3 linked regions of the Homo sapiens genome follow. The main gene of each other region encodes a partner of the protein of the gene in region 3 in a complex. Each region holds a gene or a part of one and is shown on either strand. Other genes may lie near its edges.

What was found. The genes of interacting proteins can lie anywhere in the genome.
Region 1: DRC9 (region 3) and DRC5 share a complex: the UniProt entries of both Homo sapiens proteins name them as parts of the nexin-dynein regulatory complex.
Region 2: DRC9 (region 3) and FBXL13 share a complex: the UniProt entries of both Homo sapiens proteins name them as parts of the nexin-dynein regulatory complex.

The regions. Positions count from the first base shown.
Region 1 is NC_000006.12:44,280,680-44,287,716, reverse strand, and holds part of DRC5 (dynein regulatory complex subunit 5), read left to right. Parts: coding exon 1-168; intron 169-437; exon of another isoform or gene 438-527; intron 528-1,184; coding exon 1,185-1,753; intron 1,754-5,157; coding exon 5,158-5,607; intron 5,608-7,037. UniProt on the Homo sapiens protein: Component of the nexin-dynein regulatory complex (N-DRC) a key regulator of ciliary/flagellar motility which maintains the alignment and integrity of the distal axoneme and regulates microtubule sliding in motile axonemes.
Region 2 is NC_000007.14:103,064,778-103,071,814, reverse strand, and holds part of FBXL13 (F-box and leucine-rich repeat protein 13), read left to right. Parts: intron 1-7,037. UniProt on the Homo sapiens protein: Substrate-recognition component of the SCF (SKP1-CUL1-F-box protein)-type E3 ubiquitin ligase complex.
Region 3 is NC_000003.12:197,949,955-197,956,991, reverse strand, and holds part of DRC9 (dynein regulatory complex protein 9), read left to right. Parts: intron 1-381; exon of another isoform or gene 382-1,218; coding exon of another isoform or gene 1,219-1,242; intron 1,243-2,844; coding exon of another isoform or gene 2,845-2,989; intron 2,990-5,680; coding exon of another isoform or gene 5,681-5,833; intron 5,834-6,013; coding exon of another isoform or gene 6,014-6,024; exon of another isoform or gene 6,025-6,056; intron 6,057-6,692; exon of another isoform or gene 6,693-6,802; intron 6,803-7,037. Other genes in the region: RPL35A (large ribosomal subunit protein eL33), read right to left, coding at 1,219-1,242, 2,845-2,989, 5,681-5,833, 6,014-6,024. UniProt on the Homo sapiens protein: Component of the nexin-dynein regulatory complex (N-DRC), a key regulator of ciliary/flagellar motility which maintains the alignment and integrity of the distal axoneme and regulates microtubule sliding in motile axonemes.

The DNA of each region.
Region 1 (7,037 bases), on a different chromosome or scaffold from region 3:
TCTCAAAGCCTTCAATCACACCAGTCCCTGCAAAGTCCAGGAACCCACATCCCAGGGCCAATATCCGTCGGATGCGCCGGATCATTGCTGAGGATCCTGAGTGGTCACTGGCCATCGTGCCCCTCCTCACAGAGCTCTGCATTCAGCACATTATCAGGAACTTCCAGAGTGAGTCTGTCCCTGCTTTAGGTGGGCAGGAGAAGGCCAAGAGGGGGGCTAGGTGGGTGGGGACTGTCCGGAGCCAAGACTGCAGAAGCTGGGTCCTGGGGCAGCCCCTGCTCTCCCGTATGGCATCCTCATACCCACTCAACACTTCCCTTCCACCCAGGGCCAAGACAGTTTCTCCTTCTGTTCCCACTGGCAGGTCCCACCAGACTCCCACCCACACTGCACCCTCCATGCCTCTGCCCTCTCCTTGCCTTTTCTACTCTCTCCAGCAAAACCCAGCCTGAGCCATATCTACTTCCTCCTCCAGAAAGCCTTCCCAAGTGAACCGCCCTCTACTCTGATGGAGTCTTCCATGCCATGTAAGGGCTCTTGGTTTGTTCCATATTTTGTGCTCTGTAATATTGATCCTTTCCAAAGATGGACTGCCAGCCTCTCCTACCAGATGGGGCGCTGTCTGAGGACAGGGCCATTATTTCATCTACAGCAACTATCATCACCCAGTCTCACTCATTTTACTTGTTTATTGTCAGCCTCCCCTCACTGGAATGTAAACTCCAAAAGGGAGAGCCCTGTTTGCTTACTCTTCTATCTCCAGCACGTGGGACATAGTAGTCTCTCATAGTGCTACCTCCAGTGTCTGGCACATAGTAGGTGCTCAAAAAATTTCTTGTTTTGAAATGGATGAATCAAATAAGATTGGAAGCCTCTGACCTCAGGGATTGTATCCCCCATCAGACCAGGTGATAATTGAGAGTTGGACCTGAGAGTCTTCCTCAGTCTGGGAACTCCCTGAGAACAGATGCTGAGATGTCCACCTTCAGGCAGGGAACATCCCAAAGCTAAAGGCTGTGTCCCACCCTCTGCTTGAGCCCCCCTGAGAGCAGAGGCTGTCTATCCCCTAAGCAGGGAAGGGTCTCTCCTTTGCCTGGTGCTCCCAGGCAGGCCCAGCCTGAGGCATCATGTTGAGGTGTCCCCCAACACTGTGACCCCCTGCGCTCCTTCCTCTGTTCCCAAAGAAAACCCTATCCTGAAGCAGATGCTCCCGGAACACCAGCAGAAGGTCCTGAACCACCTGTCCCCTGACCTACCACTGGCTGTGACCGCCAACCTGATAGACAGTGAGAACTACTGGCTCCGCTGCTGCATGCATCGCTGGCCCGTGTGCCACGTGGCCCACCATGGCGGCAGCTGGAAACGCATGTTCTTCGAGCGGCACCTGGAGAACCTGCTAAAGCACTTTATCCCAGGCACCACAGACCCTGCGGTGATCCTCGACCTGCTGCCGCTCTGCCGGAATTACGTGCGCAGGGTCCACGTCGATCAGTTCCTTCCGCCGGTGCAGCTCCCGGCCCAGCTCCGGCCGGGCGACCAGTCCGACTCAGGCAGCGAGGGAGAGATGGAGGAGCCCACCGTTGACCACTACCAACTGGGCGATCTGGTAGCTGGCCTGAGCCACCTGGAGGAGCTGGACCTGGTGTACGATGTCAAGGACTGCGGCATGAATTTCGAGTGGAATCTCTTCCTCTTCACCTACCGTGACTGCCTCTCCTTGGCAGCCGCCATCAAGGCATGCCACACCCTCAAGGTACTGTCTGCTCCCAGCCTTCCCCCCACCCCTTCTCAGCATCTCTCAGATTCCCTCTCCCCTCCTCTTCCTCCTCTATTATTGCCTTCTTCCTATTTCCTTCTCTTTCATTGGCCAAGTGTTTTTTAATGCACCCTGCACCAAGATACACGGTTCTGGGGGTGTAGAGATGAACAAGGCGCTGCTCTCCCAGTTCACCAGTTGGTTTCATTGAACAAACAGCTGCGCTCCAGGCCCTGTCCTAGGTGCTGAAGATTCAAGGATGAGCAAGATTATCATTTGTGCCCTCTGTAGCTAACAGTCTGATGGGATAAAGGCACTAATCAGCAATCATATAAACATAAAATTGATACTAGAATAGGGTTGCCAGATGTAGCAAATAGAAATACAGGACATCCAGTTAAATGTGAATTTCAGGTCCAGGCACGCTTGTAGTCTTCCAGAGACTGAGGAGGCTGAGGTAGGAGAATCCCTTGAGCCTCGGAGTTCAAGCCTGCAGTGAGCTGCAATCACACCACTGCACTCCAGCCTGGGTTACAAAATGAGACCCTGTCTCCAAAAATTTTGAATTTCAGATAAACAGCAAAGAATTTTTATAAGTATGTCCCGAATATTCCATGGGGCGTTCTTATTTATCTGAAATTTATTTTTAACTGGGCATCCTGTACTTTTTTCTGGTACCCCTGAATTGGGATGAATGCTATAAAGAAGAGATACTCTTATGAGAGATTGTAAAGGAGCATTTGACCTTGCAAGGGAAGGCTTCCCTGAACAAATGTCACTTACATAGAGATTAGAAGGAGGAGGACGAGTTACAGTCTCAGAGGGAGGAGCGTTCCAGACAGAGGGAGCAGTGCATACAGGCTCTATGGGCAGAGTGAACATGGCCAGCTCAAAGAGAAAGAGAAGACTGTGTGGCTGGCGCAGAGTGTGAGGTGGTCAGCCTTGCTGGGTGAAGGAGGCTTTGTCCAGGAGGCTATCTTTATCCTTAGGAGCTCTGGGACACCATCCAAGGGTTTTAGGCAAAAAAGTAGGTACCATTACTGGATTTCACATGTGAAAATGTCACTCCGTCTGTGAGGGAGGATGGCCTGGGCAGGGCAGCAGTGGACATGCAGATTACCTAGGAGATCACTGCCAAATCCAGGTGAGGGTGAGGGTCATTTCAGCGAGGGTAGTGTCTGTGGAGACTCAAAGGAGTGGAGAGAGTCAACACATATTTAGGCAGACATGTGTCTGGCATGCACCTGGCCACACTGGCACAGGGAGGATCTGAAGGAGAAGGAAGGAGAAGGAGGTGAGGTGCAAGACCTCTGGCTTGTGAGGCTGGATGGCTGGAGGGACCATGTGCAGAGACAGGGAATGTGGGAAGAGGATCAGTTTTGAGGGGGAAGAGTGTAAGTTTCAGTTTGAGGCATCTCAAAGAAGGGGTCATTTCGTTAGTTGGGTAGAGGGTCCGAAGCTCAGATGAGAGGTCTGAATTGAATGTGGGAATGTGTGCCATCTTCATGAAGGTGGCAGTTGCAGCCCTGGGTTTGGATGGAGTCTCACAGGGGAGAGCCAAAAGCAAGACAACAAGAGGCCTGGCATGTGGTCTCAGTGGAAGAAGAAGAGCTTGCCAGGAAGCCAGAGGGAGGAGGAAATGGGGAAACATGGCATTGTGTCACAGAGCAAGGGAGGGGTATGTTTCAAGTAGAGGGAGTGAGCAACGGGGTGGAATAGAGCTGAGGACTGGATTTAGTGAACATGGAGGTCACTGAGGGGGAGCTATTTCAGTGGAGTGGCAGGAGCAGAGGCCAGATAGCAGTGGTTTCTGGGGAGAGTGGGAAGTGAGGAATGGGTGGCTGTGATCAGCTTTTTCAAGAACTTGGCTGCGAAGGGGAAAAGGTACAGCCATAACCGATGAGAGCTTTGGGTTCCTTCAGAATAACTCACATATGTTTAAAACCAGTGTAAGGCTCCATCCAGTTGCAAGAAAGGGGATGAATGTAGAAGAGAGGCACGGGTTCATAGACCAATAAGTCAGTGCTTGGTATCAGGAAAATGACAGGTTCCCATTCAATGACTGAGAAGGCAAGAGGAGAGTTCACCTGCTGAAAGAGGGGGCTCAGCAAGGAGGCCCCTGAATTCTGAGGAGGCTGCAAAAAGCTGAAATAGTTGTTGTAGATTATAAGAGGGTATTTTGGCCAGAGAAATATAGTTAGATTGGCATGCAGCGTTACAAGCCTATTGGTGTTTCCGGTGATAGCAACCAGTCCCATCAGCTGATGTTTTCTATTTTGTCAGTTGCTTGCGCACAGGCATGCAGAAAATAGAGAGTGGGGCTGATCCAGGGTTAGGGCTTTGCCAGAGAGACGCAATGAAAAGAGAAGAGACACAAAGGACTCAGCTGGGTAAGAGGGGTATAAAAAGGAGTGAACCGAAGGGTAGAGAGAGAGAGGCCAGACACTCAGAGGTCTCAAGGGAGAGAGAGGAGTGGGACAAGCCAGCGGGAAGGTGAGGGGGAGAGGTTCCCATGGACAATATTCATACTGCCAGCCCCATCCCCTTTCCTTCATTCCTTTATCTCATCCTTTTCCTGCTTCTCCACCTCCCCACTGTCTCCCTGGTTCTTGCCCTGGCAACCTCCTTCAAAGAGGTCCTCTCCTTGCCCTGGTGGATCTTGGCTGGGAGAGGAGGATGCAGTGAGGGGCTGAGGCCTCAGGCAGGCTTGGATTCCAAACCTGTCTCAACTGCTTCAATCACTGCATTACTCTGGGGAAATAATGTAAGCCTCCATTTTCTGTCTGTAAAATGGAGAGAACTTTCTCTTCTTCATCGAGATGCTGAAGGTTAGAGATAATGGTTGTGAAAGACCCAAGCGGCCGGGCGCGGTGGCTCACGCCTGTATTCCCAGCACTTTGGGAGGCTGAGGCGGGTGGATCACGAGGTCAGGAGATCAAGACCATCCTGGCTAACACGGTAAAACCCTGTCTCTACTAAAAATACAAAAAATTAGCAGGGCGTGGTGGCGGGCACTTGTAGTCTCAGCTACTCAGGAGGCTGAGGCAGGAGAATGGTGTGAATCCGGAAGGTGGACCTTGCAGTGAGCCAAGATCACGCCACTGCACTCCAGCCTGGGTGACAGAGCGAGACTCCGTCTCAAAAAAAAAAAAAAAAAAAAAGATAAAAAAGGAAGACCCAAGCAGCATACCCAGCATGTAGTAATTGCTCAATAAACAGTGATCTTTCCTCCCTGCTACCTGCCACCAATTCTACACTACTCTGCCATGCTGGTAGGCCTGGCCCCCTCCAAGACCCAGCCAGGTGGCCAACACTAGGTGAGCCAAGTTTGCCAAAGATCTAGGTGGGCAGGCTGATTATCCCTGGCTGGCAGTTGCTGTAGACCCTCTGCCTGCCCACAGATCTTCAAGCTGACCCGAAGCAAGGTGGATGATGACAAGGCACGCATCATAATTCGAAGCCTTCTGGACCACCCAGTCCTCGAGGAGCTGGACTTGTCACAAAACCTCATTGGAGACCGTGGTGCACGAGGTGCTGCCAAGCTGCTGAGCCACAGCCGCCTGCGTGTGCTCAACCTGGCTAACAACCAGGTGCGTGCACCCGGTGCCCAGTCCCTGGCTCACGCTCTGGCACACAACACCAACCTCATTTCCCTCAACCTACGTCTCAACTGCATCGAGGATGAGGGTGGCCAGGCTCTTGCCCATGCCTTGCAGACCAACAAGTGCCTCACCACGCTGCACCTCGGTGGCAATGAGCTGTCTGAGCCCACCGCCACACTCCTGTCACAGGTGCTCGCCATCAACACCACACTCACCAGCATCAACCTGTCCTGCAACCACATCGGGCTGGTGAGCCACCTATTCTGGGCTTGTGAGGGTGGGTGTGGAATCCAACTGCCAGGGGTACTTGTGGGATAATTGTGAAGATCACAGAGTTTACATACTACATACTGCATCAAGTATGCACACATACTGTGTATCCCAATGATTATTTTTCCTTTAATCCTTACAGTTACCTAAGTAACTGTATATTAACCCTAAGCATATTTAACCCTAAATATATTTAAGTATATAACTAAGTATATTTAACCCTACTTTCTAGATGGAAAACTAAGTTTCAGAGAGGATAGTGAGTTGCCCAAGGGCATCAAGTCAGTAGCAAGTGGCAAGGCTACGATTCAAACCCAAGATTGATTGAAAGCCTGAGTCCTTTCTAATAGACTGTGTCTCTAAAACTTTCTTAACCAAGTCTGAGAGTAAGAAATGCAATTTACGACCAGGCACAGTGGCTCACGCCTGTAATCCCAGCACTTTGGGAGGCTGAGGTGGGTAGATCACCTGAGGCCAGGAGTTCGAGACCAGTCTGGCCAACATGGTGAAACCCCATATCTACTAAAAATACAAAAATCAGCCCAATGTGGTGGCATGCACCTGTAACCCCAGCTACTTGGGAGCCTGAGGCAGGAGAATTGCTTGAACCCAGGAGGCGGAGATTGCAGTGAGCTGAGATCGTGCCCCTGCACTCCAGCCTGGGTGACAGTGCGAGACTCCGTCTCAAAAAAAAAATGCAATTTACATGAACACTGACATAAACATAATATTGAAATTTATGACGTGATATATGCTGATATTTTCCTTTACATTCCATTCTATTGTATTTTTTAAAATGCTTCTGTGACCCATTAAATTGACTTTGCAACACACTACTGGGTCACAACCACAGAATGGTAGCATTCTGCCTCCCAACGTGAAATTCTTTCACATTGGGGCTAGCCCACCCAGCCCAGCAGGGGTTGGAGCTGTGATGACCATTGAGCAGGGCCCTCCATTAGGTCACTGAACCCTCTACTAAACCTCCCCATGAGAACAGCCTTGCTCACCTACACAGGCACATACACGCACACACACGTGCATGCGCGCACACACACACACACACAGTTTCTAGAGGGGGTGCTGTTGACTGCAAGTAATAAAAAGCTTAATCAGAAATGGCTTAAGCAGGAGGAATATTCAGTGTCTCCCACAACCAGAATTAGAGGGTTGTAGGGTCGGTAAACCCCTGGGTTCAGTGCTACCCTCTGCTCTGCCCACCCCAGTCTCATGGCCAATGCCTCGCTAGTGCTTCTGTCAGTCCCAAGATGGCTGCCACAGTTCTGACATCTCATACAGGGACATGCCCAGAGGCAGAAACCGGGAGAACACCTGCTCCCTTTTCTTCTCTTTTTGGAATGAGGAGAAGCTTCCCAGAAGCCACCCTCTCTCAGCTTCCCCCTCACATC
Region 2 (7,037 bases), on a different chromosome or scaffold from region 3:
CCCTGTATATTTAACCTCTTCTGAATTTCATCTACCTGTCCTAAATAAAACCTGATTTTCTACCTACAATATCATTTTCCTGCAAATCTCTTGAATAGAGACTGATTTTTTTAAAAATCAGGCCTGGCTTGGTGGTTCATGCCTGTAATCCCAGCACTGTGAGAGCCCAAGGCAGGTGGATTGCTTGCCAGGAGTTCAAGACCAGCCTCGGTAACATAGTGAGACCCTGTGTGTACAAAAATTAAAAAAAAAAAAAAAAAAAAGCTAACTTGTCTTAGTGGCTCACACCTGTAGTCCCTGCTACTCATGAGGCTGAGAGGAGAGGATCACTTGAGCCCAGGAATTTGAGGCTGCAGTGAACTATGATTGCACCACTGAACTCCAGCCTGGGTGATGGAGCAAGACCCTATCTCTAAAAAAATAAAAAATTAAAAAACATTTTAAACAATCCTGCTTGGTCCCCTGGGCTTACTGAATCTGTTGATAGATATTTTTCATCCGTTTTAGAAAATTCTTGGTTCTTTTCAAATAGTACTTCTATTCAGTTCTCTCTTTTCCTTTTGGAACTCCAATCGTACATATGTTAGCTTTTTTTTTCTTTTTCTTTACCTTGTTCTACATGCCTCTTTTGATCTCTTCTGCTTTTTCCCCATTTTCTTCTTTTTGAGCTCAAGTTTGGATCTTTTTCATTGATGGTTTTCAAGTTTACTAATTTTGTTTTATGCTGTGTCCAGTCTACTCTTAAATACATCAAATGAAATCTTAATTTTAGACATGTTTTTCAGTTCTAGAATGACAATTTGATGTTTAAATAAATTCTGATTATTAGAATTATGCATCTTTTCATTCAGTTTGCCTTTTTCTGTTTTCTTTATTTGTTCTCTCCAAATCTGTTAAAATTTGATCCCCAGTGTTGGAGGTGGGGCCCAGTGGGAGGTATTTGAGTCATGTGGGCAGATCCCTCAAGAATGGCTTTGTGCCCTCCCCTGTGATAATTAGTGAGTTCTCCCTCTATTAGTTCACCCAAGAGCTGGTTGTTTAGAAGAGCCTCCCTCTAGCTGTTTCTCTTACTCCTTCTCTTCCCATGTTACATGCTGGCTCCCTTTGCCTTCTGCAGTGAGTAAAAGCTTCCTGAGGCCTTCGCCAGAAGCCGAGCAGATGCTGGCACCATGCTTCTTGTACACCCTGCAGAACCCTGAGCCGCATACAACTCTTTTCTTTATAAATTACCTGGCCTCAGGTATTTCTTTATAGCCGTGCAAAATGGATCAACACACATGTTGATGGTTGTTATTTTAAAATTATTGTTTGTTGCTTATGCCTGTAATTCTAGCACTTTGGGAGGCCGAGGTGGGTGGATCACTTGAGGCCAGGAGTTCGAGACCAGCTGAAACCCTGTCTCTACTAAAAATACAAAAATTTGCCAGGTGTGGTGCACGCCTGTAATTCCAGCTATTTGGGAGGCTGAGGCATGAGAATCGCTTGAACCCAGGAGGCAGAGGTTGCAGTGAGCTGAGATCACACCATTACACTCCAGCCTGGGTGATGGAGTGAGACTGTGTCTCTAAAAAAATAAATAAATAAAATAAATACATAAAATTAAATCATTGTTTGTTAACTTGAATATCCAGATCATTTGTGGGTCTGCTTCTATTGCTTATTTTCTTCTGTTGATAATTCAAGACATTTTCCTGCCTTCATACATACCTAGTAATTTCTTTTTTTTTTTTTTTTTTGAGACAGAGTCTTGCACTGTCGCCCAGGCTGGAGTGCAGTGGCGGGATCTCGGCTCACTGCAAGCTCCGCCTCCTGGCTTCACGCCATTCTCCTGCCTCAGCCTCCCGAGTAGCTGGGACTACAGGCGCCTGCCACCATGCCCGGCTAATTTTTTTGTATTTTTAGTAGAGACGGGGTTTCACCGTGTTAGCCAGGATGGTCTCGATCTCCTGACCTCATGATCCACCTGCCTCGGCCTCCCAAAGTGCTGGGATTACAGGCGTGGGCCACCGCGCCCAGCCCATACCTAGTAATTTCTTATTTTTATTGGACATTGTGTGAGAAAAGAACAATAGAAGTTCCAGATGATATACTCTTTCGCCAGCAAAGGTTCGTCCTTTCCTCTGTATAGGGTACAGAGCTCATGACCTCAGTCCAGGAAGGGACTGATCTGTGTTGAGCTTGGACTGTGGATTTATTTGGGTTCGGTTTACATCTGGTTCATCCCTATTCCTCAGGCATAGCTCTTCTGGGCTTTTGATTGAGAAGCTAGCCAGTCTCTGTCTCCTCAGACTGAAAGATTGTGAGAGATTTGGTTCTGCTCTTCGGAGGTATTTAAGCTTAGCTCTTTAGTTTCCCTTCTAGGCCCTCAACTTTTATATATGTATATATATTCCCCAATTTAAAACTTTTAAAAGTAAACTTTAATATCAAAAATGCAAACTTGGGGAGGGCATAAAAATCACACACAAGGCTGCCACTTCACACTTCGAGGGTTGCACAACGGCCGGGCAAAGGCGCTCCTCACTTTCCAGATGGGGCGGCAACCAGGTAGAGGCGCTCCTCACTTCCCAGAAGGTGCAGCGGCTGGGCAGAGGCGCTCCTCTCTTCCCAGACTGTGGGGCAGCCAGGGAGAGGTGCGCCTTACTTCCCAGACAGTGGGGCGGCAGGGCAGAGGGCCTCCTCACTTCCCAGAGGGGGCGACAGCCAGGCAGAGGTGCTCCTCACTTCCCAGGTGGTGGGGCGGCCGGGCAGAGGTGCTCCTCACTTCCCAGACGGTGGGGCGGCCGGGCAGAGGCGCTCCTCACTTCCCAGATGGTGGGGCGGCTGGGCAGAGGTGCTCCTTACTTCCCAGATGGCGTGGTGGCCGTGGGCCCTCAACTTTAAAATCTGGCAAGTACATTGAAGGTTATGCTGGCTGTATGTTTGAGGCAGGCTTCCTCTTCCTTCCCTGAGATTATGAAAGACTCACTCTGCCTTGTAGGAGTTGATGTTCTAGCTCCTCAGCCTCCTGTGTGAACACTCCCAGAACTCACTGCCTTATGGGAGACAGTGGCCACACTTGGGGCACCTCAAGTTTCTAACCTGTCATGTTACCCCCGTGCCACCACCATAAGCCTATTGGTTTCTCTTCCCATTTGTAGACTTTCTCTGCCTGGGCCCAGCCCTGTCCTCTTTCCTACCCAGAGCTGGCACACGTTCCCAGGGAAAAAAAGCAGCTGTGCATTGTCAGCTCACTTCAGAAAAATTTCCTTCCCCTGGAATTCCATGGCTCGCCAATATCTTTTTTAAATGTGATTTTTGTAATGTGTCTGTTTTTTTCTAGTTGTTGTAGCAGGGTCATTGGACCATGGTGACTTTCCACATCCTACTCAGATATGAAATCCTAGGGAGACTGTCTTGTTTCACTCCTCAGTTTACCTCAGATCTAGAGATAGGTTAGGTGTCTTCCTTGGCTCCCCATTTCCACTTCCAAACTATGTATCTTCCCTCCTTTTTCTAAAGTCTCAGCTTCTTTGTAGTTCATAACATCAGATTTAGCACTCACTGTCTTCATTATGTACCAATCTCTATGTTTTGTTGGTAGCATTAGCATCTGGCTCACCATCTTCCTTTTTCTCTACTCCTGTCATTGTTCTTGTGCCCGCAGTATTCACAGGGATGTTCCGTTCACATCCTTGACCTTTCTTCCAGTTATCTTTGCTTTCACCGTTCCTCAGTCATGTCCTTCTATGGTCATACTCTTAACCATTTTATCCTAAATTGCTGTACCATCTCTGAAATCTCCATTTCTTCATCCACTTATCTCTTAATTTCTTAGCTCACTCACATTGGAGCTTCTACACTAGCACTTCTTCAACTGACTCAAACCACCATTTCATTCAATTATCTTTGCACTGTCAAATATTACTCTTATGTCCTTATTTCTCTCTTTACCCATCTTAGATTCCTTGGTTCATCATTATTGTGGATGTCTATTACCTAAATGTCTTTACAACATTTAGTGATTTAAAATAACAGTATTCATTTTATTATTGCCTCTCACAGTTATGGGAGTTGACAGAATATTATTGCTTGAGATCCCTCATGCACTTACATGTCAGAGTGGCTGAGGTTAAAATCATCTTGAAGGCTTCCTTACCTACATGCCTGGCAGTTGATGCTGGCTGTCGATGAGGACCTCTCCTGAGACTGACAGGTAGAACATCTATGTGTAACATCTCCATGTAGCTTGAGCTTCCTCACAGCGTGGAGGCTGGGTCCCAAAACAGGTGTCCAAGAGACAGAGCCAAGTAAAATCTCCTTTTATAACCTAGCCCCAGAAGTTACTCAACATCACTTTCACTGTATTCTCTTCATTACAAGTGGATTATTAAGACTAATCCATATTCAAGAGGAGAGGAATTAAACCCCACCTCTTTATGTAAGAAATATCATTTGCAGACATGCTTTTAAAATGCCACCACACCATCATTATGATCACTTTCAAATACGATTATCTCCTTTACCTGTTTCTCCCTCTGTCCTATTGATGTGACAAACACCCATCCCTGGTAAAACTCAAATATCCAGCAGTCCGTGCTTACCCCTGAGCAACTGAACATTATTTAAAGGAAGAACACACAATTAAACTGAATTGTGTCACTTTAAATTCAATCCTCAGTTGTCAAATGGGCTCTCAATATCCATAGTCCTACATTTCCTAGTATTTTCAGTTTCTGACAATTCCATTACACCCACAGTGAAAGAGTAGACAAAAAAAAAAAAATTCTTGGGAGGCCGAGGCGGGCAGATCACCTGAGGTTTGGAGTTCAAGACCAGCCTGACCAACATGGAGAAAGATCACTAAAAATACAAAATTAGCTGGGCGTGGTGGCGCATGCCTTTAATCCCAGCTACTCGAGTGGCTGAGGCAGGGGAGTCTCTTGAACCCAGGAGGCGAAGGTTGCGGTGAGCTGCGATCACGCCATTGCACTCCAGCCTGGGCAATGAGAGCGAAACTCCATCTCAAAAAAAAAAAAAAAAATCCTCACAAAATTCTTCCACTGAATATTAAAAAATCAATTGCATTTCAATTCACTAGAACCAAAGTTTTAAACAGTAGCTTTTAAAAATTACATTCATAGGCTGGGCGCAGTGGCTCACGCCTGTAATCCCAGCGCTTTGGGAGGCTGAGGCGGGTGGATCATGAGGTCAGGAGCTTGACACCATCCTGGCTAACAAGGTAAAACCTCGTCTCTACTAAAAATACAAAAAAAATTAGCTGGGCGTGATGGCGGGCGCCTGTAGTCCCAGCTGCTCAGGAGGCTGAGGCAGGAGAATGGTGTGAACCCGGGAGGCAGAGCTTGCAGTGAGCCGAGATCGCACCGCTACATTCCAGCCTGGGCAACAGAGTAAGACTCTGTCTCAAAAAAAAAAAAAGAAATTACATTCATAATAGCCACAAAAAATATAAGGTTTCTTAGGACAAGATGTGAAAGACCTGTTTGGAGGAATTTGTAAAATTTTATTGAAAGATGTTTAAGGTGACCTAAAGAAATGAAGTACTCTGCTGTGTTTATGAATGGGAAAATAACAACATGTAATGTCTTCCCAGAAAATGTATAAATTCAATGCAATTTTAGTTAAAGTCTAAAATTTTTTTCCCCATAAAACTAGACAGCTGATTATAATACTGCAGAAATATTGAGGAGGAGAAAAGTAGCCCTTGACACCTAGAAGCTGGACTGGTGTCATGATCTAGACCTTGGCATTGCTTTGGGCTAGCATGTTGTTAAGCCTTGTCAGTGCTGGAGGGACCCTGGAGGGAGAGGGACTTCAGTTCCTGGTTCCTGTGTGCTTCCTCACTTCTTGTTCACATGACACAGCTTCCAGGAGCATGTGTGTGGTGCACCCAGTGGTGCCCACTCTTCAGCAAGTTTTGCTCACCAGCCTCAGCCCATTGGCACCCCAGCAGGGGGCGTCTGCTCACTAGTGTGAGCTGGTGGGGTCCTGTTCACCAAGCCTTGGACCATCATGGCTGAGAACTATCTCTGTCTCAGGGCAACCTAATGGACTTCCCCACTATACCTCAGCCACACTCCACATTCTCTGAATCTCAGCCTTGGGGAGGTGGCTGCCCTCCTTCCAAGGTTATTTCATCTTTGGGTACTCTGTCTGAGCCACAGGGTGTCCTTTAGTGTTCTCTTTTGCTCTTAGTAGTTACTCTCTTTTTACTAGTTAGTAATTCTTTGAATTGCATTCTTTATTAGAATCTCTTTATGAGATAGAATAAATTGTTCTTTATTCAAAACACGGGTGTGATTTCTGTCTCTTGACTGGACTCTGAGTGATACAGGAGGATTAACTGGAGAGGGACATGAGAACTTTCCGGAGAGTTGGAAAGAAACCACACCCGGGGTGTGGGTATTTTCATTATCAAAATTATACTAATAAGATTTATGCATTTGAAATAATATAAATTTTACCTTAAATTATAATTGAGAATAGGTAGAAATGGGTAGATATATAGATGATACAAAAATCACAGAATAATTATTGTTGAAACTGGGTGATAGGTACATAAGTGTTCCCTATACTACTGTTTCTAAATGTTTGAAATTTAAAAATCTAAAATGAAAGATAGTTATGGCTAGGCTTTTTTTTTCAGAATGTATGTTGCTAGGGATGGATGGAATGACAGATTTGATTTGGCTGTGTAGTCATTTTCTGTTTGTTTGGTGTGTCAATTATCTATTGCCATGTGACATGCAACCAGTTAAAGCACTTGGTGGCTTACAACAACAGGAATCACTTAGTTTGCTTAAAAATTTGAAATTTTGGCAAGGTTTTGCAGGGGGTGGAAGATCCACTTTTAAGATGATATCTTCTTTTGCATGCCTAGCAAGTTGGTGCTGGCTGTTGGCTGGGAGTTCAGCCAGGTCTGTGAACCAGTAGGCTTGGTTCCTCTTCATCTGGACCTGCCCATGGGCTGCTTAGACTTCCTCACAGTATGGTAGCTGATTTCTAAGACCAAACCTCCCCAGAGAGAACCAGGTAGA
Region 3 (7,037 bases):
GGGCTTAGGTGGCAAACTCCCAGTTTCTTGTTGACATTTTCAGTGCAATTTAAAGATGTTAATTTAAAAAACTACCTGTGCTGTAGAGATCAGTAACCCTCAGGGGGCAGACAAAAAGACTGTTACTGCATCAGTTAGAAATGTAGTACTACCTGGGCAACATAGTGAGGCCCATCTCCACAAATAACTAAAAAGTTAACTGGTTGTGGCTGCACATGCCTGTGGCCCCAGCTATTTAGGAGGCTGAGGCAGGAGGTTTGCCTGAGCCGAGGAGGTTGAGGTTGAGGTTGCAGTAAGCTGTAATCACGCCACTGCACTCCAGCCCAAGCAACAAAACAAGACCTTGTCTTCAAAAAAAAAAAAAAAACCATACAGCAAAACTGATGCCTTAGTTGTTTTATTTTAGCATATCCCCAAGAAATCTAAAATATTTAGGAGGCCTGCTTAAAGTGCAATCTTGAACTTTACCAGATTAAAACATGAAGCCAAAGAAAGCTGCCACCTTTCCGTGCACTATTCCCAACCTCCATGTACCTACCATAGGATTGCTTTTTATGAGTGGAGTAATATGGCTTAATTTTATTTTAATATACTGGAATGCTTTGTCCAGTCACAAGTCCCAAGAGCTTCTCATCCCAGTCTATCCAAATGAACTGCCAAAGCCCATCAACATAATCTCCATTCAAATTTTAAGTTTCCCAATCTGCATTGAACAAATGCATAGTATCACAAAGCACTTGGCAGGTGTGGTGGCTCATAACTGTATCCCAGCACTTCAGGAGAGGCCAAGGAAGGAGGATTGCTTGAGCCCAGGAGTTTGAAGCCAGCATAGGCAAGAGTCAGACCCTCTCTACAAAAAATTTAAAAATGACCCAGGGATGGTGGCATGAGCCTGTGGTCCCAGCTACTTCAAAGGCCAAGGGAGGATTGCTTGAGCCTTTGAATGTGAGGCTGCAGCGAGCACCACTACACTCCAGCATGGGCAACAGAGCAAGACTCTGTCAAAGATACTCGCATTAAAACCCGTTCCCTTCTAAATCTCTGTACTCGCCCTGTAATTTTCATCACATGTCTCTCTGACCCCCTTGTACTCCAAAAATGCTGAGCAACCTCTATCATTTTAAGCATGTAGCAAATCAATTTAAGGTAGTAAGTTTTTTAATCCACTTAAAAATACAAGAGCACAAATCCACATTTATTTATTGATTTTTCGTTAGTTTAAATCCTTGAGGGGTACAGCATCTGCAGGGAAAAAAGAACACAAAACATTAGGTGAATGTTATATATACGTCTACAAATCAAGAACCGTAATACGGATAAATCTCTGAAAGGCTACCAATTACATGTTCTAGTGGTAAGGAAAGTTTTTATAGCCTTCAGTCTCTACGTGAACATACCGTAAGAACCGGCACTCATAAAAAACATGTACTGGCCAGGTGCTGTGGCTCACACCTGTAATCCCATCACTTTGGGAGGCCTAGGCGGGCAGATCCTAAGGTCAAGAGATAGAGACCATCCTGGCCAACATGGTAAAACCCTGTCTCTACTAAAAAATACAAAAATCAGCTGGGCATGGTGGTACGTGCCTATAGTCCCAGCTACGCAGGAGGCTGAGGCAGGAGAATCGCTTGAACCTGGGAGCTTGCAGTGAGGCAAGATCCCACCACTGCACTCCAGCCTGGTGACAGAATGAGACTCTGGTCTCAAAAAAAAAAAAAGAAAAAGAAAAACATGTACTGAAGGTACATTTAATTTTGCTTCTTCTAAAGACAGAGTAAAAGCCTCCTCTGTTGATAAACCCTAATGAACCACTTAGCAGGGTTCAACAGTACCCCCTGGCCCCAAGAATACATGGTATGCATATATTCTTGGTCCCAAGAATATACAGTCTACATTCCAAAATGGACCCTAAAGAAAAAGTACGAACTATTTGAGAAAAATTACAGGAGAAAATTGAGAAAAATTTAGAGTCCAAGGCTGGCACCAAAGACCTGAGACCTAGGAACATGAGAGTCTGTTTTCTTCATGTACAAAATAAAGCTACTAACACCTGTTCTAACAAGACTGACATGATGGAAATGGCAAAATATTAACAATTATGCCAGGCGTAACTGTTGAATTGTTGCTTTCTAACAATTACTTCAGTGCCCAATAAATATCTTCACCAGAAAACTATTTATTCAAGGCTGGCTGTGGTGGCTCAAGCATATAATCCCAGCACTCTGGGAGGCCAAGGTGGGCAGATCACTTGGGCTCAGGAGTTCAAGACCAGCCTGGGCAACATGGAGAAACAAAATACAAAAATACAAAAAATTATCTGGGCATGGTGGTATATACGCCTGTAATTCCAGCTACTCGGGAGGCTGAGGCACAAGAATCACATGAACTTTGGAGGCAAAGGTAGCAGCAAGCTGAGATCATGCCACTGCACTCCAGCCTGCGTGACAAAGTGAGACCTTGTCTCAAAAAAACACAACAAAAACCCCAAAAATTAGCTGGGTGTGGTGGCACACGCCTATGGTCCCAGCTACTTGGGGGGCTGAGGTGGAAGGATTGCTTGAACCCAGGAGGTCGAGGCTGCAATAAGCTGTGATTATGCCACTGCACCCCAGCCTGGGTGACAAAGTGAGACCCTGTCTCCCCCCAAAAAAAAAACAAAAAACAAACAACCAAACACCTAATTCTTTCAATTACTATCTCTCCAGTGTTCTGCAATACACAAATTTTGCAGCATAATTTACTGGTGTCAATTTCACAACCACAGAAGTCCTCAGAAGTCAAAGCACAACACCTTGAACCTAGTCTGATTCATCAGACGTCCATTTTGCTAAAAACCATACTCACCACTCGGATTCTGTGTCCAATGGCCTTAGCAGGAAGATTGCTTCGGAATTTGGCACGAACCATGCCACTGTTTCCATGGGCCCGAGTTACTTTTCCCCAGATGACTCTGGTTTTGTTTGGTTTGCCGCCAGGAGTGACTGTGTTGCTGATTTTAAAAAGGGAAAGAAGAGGAATACAAGCTGATATAGTTGGATACAAATTCAAGGTGACCTCTACACGAGTGGCTCTCAACCCTGGTTACCCACTTCATCACCTGAGAAACTTTAAATGCCTAGAACACCATTCATTCAACAGATACTTATCGAGTAACTATTGTATGCCAGGCCCTTCTGTAAAATACAGCAGCTATAAAACAAAAATCTTTCACATGATAACCAAGTAAGTTTAAGGAAAATACATAGGTCAGATGATAACAGAGGCAATATTGAAAAAATAGCAAAAAAGGACAAGTGTGAGGATATTTGTGTGTACAGAAAGGAGGAATTACCTGCCATTTTAAATAGCCAAGGAAGGTCTCACTGAGGTGACCATGGAACAAAGACTGGAAAGGGAGGGGAAATGCCATGAAGTGATCACGGGATGACTAGCGCAGGCACTGGGGCCAAGGAGTGTGTGTCCTGGCCGGAAGAAAGACTGAAGACACCAAGGGGTTAATCCCAGCTGAGATAAAGAGAATTATGGAGCTCTTAATGACGGGCTTTTACTGAATGAGAGAAACTACTGTGGTTCGAGCAATGTACAAAGGATATGACTTTATATATATTTCCTTTAAAGACCACGGGGTTGTCTTGTCACCCAGGCTGCAGTACAGTGGCCCAATCATAGCTCACTGCAGCCTCTATCTCCTGGCATCAAGCAATCCTCCCACCTAGGGCTCTCAAATGCTGGGGCTACAAGTGTGAGCCACTGCACCTGACTTAAAATTTTAAAGGAACACATTGGCTGTAGAAGAAAAGGTGGGGCAATGATTAAAACACTTTCCCAGAGATTTTAATTGGCTTGGAGTGGGTGAAGACAATAGGATTTGCTCTTGTTGTCCAGGCTAAGGTGCAATGGCACGATGGCTCACGCCTGTAATCCCAGCACTTTGGGAGGCTGGGGCGGGTGGATCACGAGGTCAGGAGTTCGAGACCAGCCTGGCCAACATGGTGAAACCCTGTCTCTACTAAAAATACAAAAGTTAGCCGGGTGTGGTGGTGCGCGCCTGTAATCCCAGCTACTGGGGAAGCTGAGGTTGCAGTGAGCTGAGATCACACCACTGCACTCCAGCCTGGGCAACAGAGCAACACTTTGTCTCAAAAAAAAAAAAAAGTCTACAGCATAAACATCTTTAGGCATGCATAAAAACTAATTTTGGCCTGGTGCAGTGACTTGCGCTATAATCCCAGCACTCTGGGAGGCCGAGGCAGGTGGATTACTTGAGGTCAGGAGTTCAAGACCAGAGTGACCAACACTGTGAAACCCCGTTTCTACTAAAAACATAAAATTAGCTGGGTGTGGTGGCACACGCCTGTAATCCCACCTCACTCGGAGGCTGAGGCAGGATAATCGCTTGAACCCGGGAAGCAGAGATTACAGTGAGCTGAGATTGTGCCATTGCACTTTAGCCTGGATAACAAGAGCAAAACTCTGTCTCAAAAAAGAAAGAAAAAAAGAAAAGAAAGAAAAGAAAAAACAAGGGGCGGGGCACCGTGGCTCCTGCCTGTAATCCCAGCACTTTGGGAGGCTGAGGTGGGTGGATCACAAGTTCAGGAGTTTAAGACCAGCCTGGCCAAAATGGTGAAACCCCATCTCTACTAAATATACAAAAATTAGACAGGCATGGTGGCGGCCGCCTGTAATCCCAGCTACTCAGGAGGCTAAGGCAGGAGAATCCCTTGAACCCGGGAGGCGGAGGTTGCGGTGAGCCGATATTGTGCTACTGCACTCCAGCCTAGGTGACAGTGAGACTCCGTCTCCAAAAAAAAAAAAAAAAAAAAAAAAAACCCATAATTTTAAGGCATTAACAAAATGCATTAAGCACAAGTGTTCTAAAAATCCTTAAATTCTGGCAAAAGGAGCCGAGAAAAAAAATTAGAAACCTTAAAAGGATCACAATATAAGGAATTACCTCCTTTATTGCTTACAAGTGCAAAAGGTACCTAAATCCAACACCACCCTCAGAAGTAACGTCCTTCTAAAACTCCCCATTAAGTTCCTTAATGACGCAAAATAGAAGCCACAGCAATACCAATCCAGCCTGGCCAACATGGGGAAACCCATTCTCTAGTAAAAATACAAAAATTAGCCGGGCGTGGTGGCACACCCCTGTAAGCCCAGCTACTCAGGAGGCTGAGGCAGGAGAATCGCTTGAGCCAGGAGGCAGAGGCTGCAGCGAGCCAAGATCGCGCTACTGCCCTCCAACCTGGGCAACAGAGACTCTTGTCACAAAAACAAAAAAACAATACCAAGTACTTCAGCTAAATCTTTTGTTTATTATTTCAATAGGATAATGAGGCCAGGCGCGGTGGCTCAAGCCTGTAATCTCAGCACTTTGGGAGGCCGAGGTGGGCGGATCACCTAAGGTCAGGAGTTTGGGACCAGCCTGGCCAACATGGCAATACCCTGTCTCTACTAATAATACAAAAACTAGCCGGGCGTGGTGGCCGGCGCCTGTAATCCCAGCTACTCGGGAGGCTGAGACAGGACACTTGCTTGAACCCGGGAGGCGGAGGTTTCGGTGAGGGAGACCAAGTCACTGCATTCCAGCCTCGGCAACAGAGCAAGACTCCGTTATATAAAAAAGAAAATGAGGCAGATCTCAAAAACCCAAAACCTACCAGTGTCATAAACTTACTTCTTTGCTTTATATACATAAGCGCATCTCTTGCCCAAATAGAATTCTGTTTCATCTCGGGCGTAAACACCTTCAATTTTAAGAAGAGCTGTGTGCTCCCTTTGGTTCCGGAGACCCCGCTTATAGCCAGCAAAAATGGCCTTGGACCACAGCCTAAGACACAAAAGATACACAACATGAAACATAAGCTTCAAAAAACCAATCTGACTTGTAATCACCCCCACCCAAAAGTTACTCAGAGCAAACATCTAAGTTTTTTCTTGCCAATTTTAAGCTCGCATTTACGTTCACGTCTAACACACAAAAATAAAGAACTATATTTAAAACGCGTACCTTCCAGACATAGTTCCTTTTAGAAGTCCCGTTCCCAGCAGGCCTTAAAACAAACAAAAAGATTAGTTTAAAACCAAGCCACACAAGTTTCCCACCTCGTCCCCTCTCGTTTAAGCCCCTAAAGCAAATTCCTTTTGGATGGGAGTTTCATGTAGGAGTTCGGGGACAACAATGCCAGAACATCCATATGAAACGCAGGGTCCGGCAAGACATTCAAACCTCAGAGAACAGCTGGTATCTAAGCAAACTTCAGAATGAAGACAAAACTAAGGGACAGGAGTCACAAAAATGACTCTCAGAAAAGCCTGAGAAAATGCATGCCGTTATCAGTAGGCAACACTCAGGAAAAGAAATGAAGCCTTAAAGAGAAACACACACGTAAGACTTTTATGCAATGGCTGGGGGAGAAAAGCTGAGGAAAGAGACTGGTCAGACAAGCCAAGGAAGGTATGGACTGGGAGGAAACGGATGAAGGAAGCACTGCCTCATGGACAACTGCACACGAACAAAAACATCGTTTCACTCCGTTCAGGCCCAGGAATTTAACTGGGATAACCCGGGCAGCCGTTCTCCGGGTGTCAGGGGACCAAACACCATCAGCCCAACATCTCCTCCATCCTGTTCTCCCTCTTCTTGAAACCCGTAGAAATCAATGGCTGGCAGAGACTCCGATACGCACCGGCGACTCGCCAAGGCACAGGAACAAACCTACTCCGGTTATTTGCCCCCAAATTTCAGCAGCAGACCCTTCACTCACCTCCACAGGAGCCAAGATGGCGGTAAGAGAAGGACGAGGCCCCGCCGCGTGGCCTTGTGGGATTAAACATCTTTCGACTCCGCCCTCAATTTAGGCATCTTCTCCAAACGCCAGAAAAACAATCCTCGGAAATCGGCTTCGCACTGAAATAAGCCACATTCAATAGCACTCTTACAATTATTTTCCTAAGTCCTTTCATCTTGGTAGGCTGCAAAATGTACTACTTGGGAACAAGGGAAGGCAAAATGGTAGCCAGCTAAATCCGCC